Linked DNA regions of Homo sapiens. The protein of the gene in region 2 purifies or fractionates together with the protein of the main gene of each other region. This does not show direct contact. Each region holds a gene or a part of one and is shown on either strand. Other genes may lie near its edges.

Region 1 (3,500 bases), on a different chromosome or scaffold from region 2:
ATGCCTGTAATCCCAACACTTTGGGAGGCCAAGATGGGCAGATCACCTGAGTTCAGGAGTTGGAGACCAGCCTGGCCAACATGGCGAAACCCTGTCTCTATTAAAAATACAAAAATTAGTCGGGCATGGTGGCGGGCATCCGTAATCCCAGCTACTCCGGAGGCTGAGGCACAAGAATCACTTGAACCTGGGAGGTGGAGGTTGCAGTGAGCCAAGATCACACTACTGCATTCCAGCCGGGATGACAGAGTGAGACTGTCTAGATAGGTAGATAGATAGATAGATAAATAGATAGATAGATAGATAGATAGATAGATAGATAGATAGATAGATGCATACAAACATACATACATACATACATACATAATGGATAGATAATGTCTGTTGAATTAATGGGTTCCATTATTCTGGTTGATTGTGACAGGCTTTCTCTCCTGAAGCTTAAGGACCACTGGGTTGGGCATGAGGGCCTGAAAAATGATGTAACAAAATCAGATGTGAAAAAATCCATTTAAACTCAATCTACCCCAGGCCCAGCCTTACCCTACCACAGGCTTACTTACCTCTCAAAGGTCCTCCTAATCAATGACTCTGTCCAGCTCTCTGGCAGTACATGGTAGGACAGCGGTGCTCTCCTTGGGTCTCAGTGCAGCAAGTAAGCAGGTGGTGAGCACAGGATGGGCTGGAAAGGACCTGTGAGTAGGGTGGTGGAGGACCCTGTACAAGGACAGAAACCCAGACACCAAATGATTAATATATCCAAGGGCTGGGATTCCCAGCCTAGTAGCCCAAGGAAAGATAGCTTAAAGATATTCTCTAAGATTTTTCTTCTCTCCCTGCTCTTAACTAAAGCTTGCAAAGGAGGTGATTGTACATCTCCATCCAAGAACAAAACTAGCACTTTGCTGGCATATATGGGAATGCACTTTATTTTCTTCAGAAACAGGGACTGAAGAGGTAAAAACAAACTCTGAATCAGGTGTTGTTATTGAATCTGAAAGAGAAGGATAGAGTTCAGATTATTCTATATAATAGGTGCTAGTATTTGAAAAGGACCTTCCCACAGCCTCTGAGAAAAGGGAAGTAGATCATTGGTAGAAAGATGACATGGTTGCTTACAGATATCAAATGCTAACAATTATGTAAGGCCTTATGTGACCTGGTAACTCATGATAAGGAATTACCTTTGATTCCAGGGCTATTTAGAAAGCAAGAGTTCATATAAGCAAGAACTTTAACTTGGAGAAATAAAAATTAACATCAAGGAGATTACTACTTAATTACCTAAATGTAAAATGAGTATGTATTTCCTTGTTAAATTTTTGCTTACTCCTGGTGGAACTTAAACATTTTTATGACCTCCGGGTGATTTGTGTGGGGAAGAAGGAGGAGCACATGCATGTCTCTCTCTCTATATATAGTATTATAATGTGCATCATCTTGCTGTACAAAATACTGTCATTCCAAACTGCCAATGATTGAGATGCAAAATTACAGTTACAAATGGCATTTTAGGAACTATTTTTAGGTTGTCTTCAAGGACTATGTTATTAATAGCACCAGTTTGCATTTCAGTTGCTTTTCTGAATGAAGAAAAGAGATAAATCTTCAAGCTTGACTTGCTCATCAACCAACCATTTCATGATCAGAGTACATTTCCTTTCACTACCTTCCTTTTGGACCTTACCTTCTTGGTAAATATTTCTGGGGTGTTTTGTTTAATCCAGTCAGTTACTCATTCACTGAGGCAGTCTAGTAGCAGAACAAGCTACTAGACTGAATGTTTTCCTATTGGAAAGCTGCAGGTTTAGCCTGAGCACCTGACACCTTAGTAATGAAGATTGATTCAGCTCACCACCTACCCAATCTCTCTGCCTTCTAGCAATGGACTTGTTTATTCAGAAAATTCTTCCTTTTTCCTTAAAAAAAAAAAAAAAGGCAGGGGCAGACTTAATATGCTACCTTAATTTTTTAAAATTTTCTTTGAACAGACTTTAAAGGGGATGGGGGAGTAGTGTTGTAATCACTTGATTTTTCAACACCCAAGTGTGTGCTCTTTCTCTGTGGGTTTATTTCAGTCTACAACTTAAAACTAGACTGATGAAGAACCGACTGATGGAGCTGCTCTACACCCTTCAGGCAACTTTCTGTGACCACTGTTTCTCATACTCAAACTTTTAATAAAGCTTGAGGTTTTGCTCTTCAAGAAAAGATCATCCATGTTACTCATTAAATGCAGATCCACATGATTGAACAAGCACTGAGCAGAAGGCCAAGCAGCCAGCCTCTTCCAAGAAATAAGGCACTTTGCTAGAACTTAATCTGAATGGCTCATACAAGGAGGTGGGAACCTCAGAAGCCCAGAATGATTCTTTTCATTTTGCATGTGACCCTCCATACACTGACTTGGTGAGCCTCTTCTCATTTGTAGAAATAAGATTACTGGTATCTATATCACAGAGTTGTTATGAAAATTATGTGAAGTGATGTATGTAAAACTATACCAACAGTTCTATGCAAATGAAAATTTTAAATGTTTGTTATTAGTAAAGAGAGAGGTGGGTGCATGCTCTGATGTGCCACCCAGATCCCTGCTTTAGGACTGACGGACTCACTCTTCAGCTGCTGGGAGCTCTCAGCTGAGACCTCTCCCAGGACTTCTCCTTGGTTGAAGAGAGACACTTTGCCCAAGGTTAAGCACCACCACCCCAGCCTGAGTCCATTGGACTGGTCAATGGGCAGGTGTGAAGGCACAGCCTACCTCCCTTAATTTAGGAGGTAACTCTGAAGGGCATCCCAGGTCCAGAGTCCCCTTAGGATTAGAGGATCTGCTGAGGGAGACTTCTGTTGTGACTGCATTACAGTTCAATGTCTCCCTCTATCCAGTCTGCTTCCCTTGCAGCCTCACAGGTCCCATTCCCAAGAGCACTCCTGCATGCACATCTCGGAGTCTCAGAGAACCCAACCTTGACAAATAGAATTATAGGAGCTTACATGTTCTGATTGATAGATGAGCAGACTTTACAATAAAAATTATAAAAGGTAGATAGATATTTTATGCTTGCATTAGAAAATATGTAGGCCAACCAGGCAGTGGCTCATGCCTGTAATCCCAACACTTTGGGAGGCCAAGGTGGGCGGATCACTTGAGGTTGGGAGTTCAAGACCAGCCTGGCCAAATTGGTGAAACCCCATCTCTACTAAAAATACAAACATTAGCCGGGCATGGTGACAGCCGCCTGTAATCCCAGCTACTCGGGAGGCTGAGGCAGGAGAGCCGCTTGAACCCAGGAGGCAGAGATTGCAGTGAGTTGAGATCACGCCATTGCACTCCAGCCTGGATGACAGAGTGAGACTCCATCTCAAAAAAAAAAAAAAGAAAAAAGAAAATATGTAGGCCCAAACATATCTACAAAAGACTCAAGAAAATAAAAGACATTAAATATCAACTAGATAGTTGACAGGTAGATTCACATCCAGAATTTCCTTTCAAATTTCTT
Region 2 (2,529 bases):
CAGACTGTTTTCCTTCCTCCAGTGATGACCCAGCCTTGGAGTTCTTCAAGTTCTTGGAATTGTTAAGCACCATGTGACCATCACCATGTGTCAGACCAGTGAGGAGGTCAGGAGAGAGAAGCGTCCTCGTGGCTTGCCCTCAGGAGCTCACAAGGCTCTGCTGGTTACAAGGCCTGGCCCCTCTCCACGAGATGTGCTTTGGGATCCACAAGGAGAGTGCTTACCCAGAACAAGTGACAGACAAGGCCAACTCAGGGACAGGACAGTCACCATGTGTGTCCCATGGCATCCCAAGTTGAGCAGTGCTAGGGCCCAGGGTCCTGGGAGCAGGAACAAAGTTGGAAATGGAAGCCTATGCCTATCAAACGATAGGAAAGTCCTGAGATGAGGCTGAGAAAACAGTTTGTGAGATGACAGGATCAGGAAGCAGGGAGGCTTGGAAGGCAGATACAGGGAGGAAAAATCTTCAAGGGCTGCCGCAGAAGGAAAAGTCCAGGCCATGCAACTGAAACTGTTTATTGAAACCTCAGTTCTACAAAAGCGTGAAAAACCCTGATACAAAGCAGTGGCCAGAGAGGCCTGGGAAGAGAATACCTGGGAGAAGAACCAGAAGAGAGGGAAACCTAGGAGCAGGACACTAAGAGAAGACTGGAAGACAAAAGATCAGGGTTGAAGGTCCCAGCAGTCCTTGGCTCCATTAGACTAAAGCTAAGGAATGGGAGTGAAAAGGGTTCCCTGCCTCACCCAGCAGCTCCCACCTGAACCCATCAGTCCCCGGCTCTTCTGCCTCAGGGACATCACACAGGCCCATGCCAACATTTCCTTTCTCCTCTCACCCCACTTCCCTTATCTCCCACCTATACTCTTCCATCCTAGGGAAATCAAAAGTAAAAGTCTAAAAAATCCCAGGGAGGCAGAGAGGGGCTTCTATGTCCATCTGGGACATGTCCCTGGTCACCAAGCGGAAGCTCTCCCTGGCGGCATCACTGTCCTGGCCAAGCAGCCAGCCACTGCGATCTAGGAGTGAATTACCTTCAGTCCTTCTGCCCCACCACCCCATAAGCTCCCACCCAGGAGGACAGGGGACCTGCCAAGGACCCAGCGAGGCAGACAGGATCTGAATCAAGCTTTGCTCCTCCAGGTTCTCAGAAACTCCCAAACCCTCTTAATGCATTCCTCACAGCCCTACCTAGCCTGGGAAAACGAAAGACTTGAGGCGAGCCAGCTCCATGACACTGAAAAGGGAACATTGCTGAGGCTGAGGAAGTGAAAGGAGCACCGGGCTCCAAGGCCAGGGGGGAGCCAGGCCATAGGTATGGTACCAGGGGCTGGACAGCGCAGTGGGGACTGTACGGTTGGGGTGGAGGCAGGCATGGCAGGTTGGGGAGTCTCTCTGGAGCTTCTGGCAAAGGTGGCAGTTATGAAGAAGAGTGGGAGGGGCAGGGGGGTCTGGGGGAGGCAATGGTGGAGGAGTCAGTGAGGCCAGAAGACTGCCCCAGAGTGACCGCAGCCCCATGCTGCCTTCCAGGCAGCTGGAGACATTAGCGAGAGACGGCAGGCATTGTGGCACAGAAGGTATGCAGGGCTCCAGGAGGCAACGGGAGGTCAGTCCAAGGTCAGGCGGCCCAGGTGTAGGGATGCAGGACAGCCCCAAAGACTGATGTATTACGGCCACCGATGCCACAGCCAGGGCCACACTGCTCACATATGCCACAGCTAACAGGCAAGACAGCTGCAGGAGAGGAGATAAGAAAGAAGGAATCTGTCTTTAACACATTCACCCCTTGTCTCTAGAAATCTGTGTTCCAGTTGGAGGTCTCTATAGCCATTTACACCCCACTCTGCCCATCTATTCCCAACCCCATCTCCTGGGCTTTTCAGCAATCACTTCACACCATCCCACCCTACACACCGGCCTGCTCAAGCTCCCTATCCTTCCGAGCCCCTCCTCACCTTTACCAGCCGCTGGCAGAGGGAGCCCAGGGCCAACTGCCAGGTCGGCTGCTCCAGCAGCACACACAGGTCTGTGTAGGTGTACCAGCCTCGCCACCGTCCCTGCTGCTCAGCCACACTGGGGGAAGTGGAGAAATGACAAGAGTATGCAACTGTCCTGCAGCCAGCCCAGTGGCACCCTCATACCACTCAGGACCCACCAGGAAACACTGGGAAGCCTGTTAAACCCAGATTCCTAGGCTATCTGCTGATCTAGAAACTAAGGGTGAGACCAAGACCTATATTTTATTTATTTTTATTTATTTATTTTGTTAAGACAGGATCTTGCTGTCTCCCAGGCTGGAGTGCAGTAGTGCAATCATAGCTCACTGCAGACTCAACATCCTGGACTCAAATGATCCTCTTGTCTCAGCCTCCTGAGTAGCTGGGATTATGGGTGTACACCACTGCATCTGGCTAGTATTTTTTTCTGGTAGGGTCAGGCATCTTGCTATATTGCCCAGGCTGGTCTCGAACTCCTGGACCCAAGTAATCCTCCAGCCTCACCCTCCCAGAGTGCTAGGATTATAGACATAA

Evidence for each region. Proteins that work in one complex are often made in the same cells at the same time.
Region 1: the proteins of CNPPD1 (region 2) and SLC27A2 purify together in Homo sapiens (affinity purification with mass spectrometry; 2 studies listed by BioGRID and IntAct, with this or other methods). This does not show direct contact.

Annotation. Positions count from the first base shown.
Region 1 is NC_000015.10:50,188,696-50,192,195, forward strand, and holds part of SLC27A2 (long-chain fatty acid transport protein 2), read left to right. Parts: intron 1-3,500. UniProt on the Homo sapiens protein: Mediates the import of long-chain fatty acids (LCFA) into the cell by facilitating their transport across cell membranes, playing an important role in hepatic fatty acid uptake.
Region 2 is NC_000002.12:219,171,397-219,173,925, forward strand, and holds the end of CNPPD1 (protein CNPPD1), read right to left. Parts: intron 2,072-2,529; coding exon 1,954-2,071; intron 1,733-1,953; coding exon 1,190-1,732; 3' UTR 501-1,189; downstream 1-500.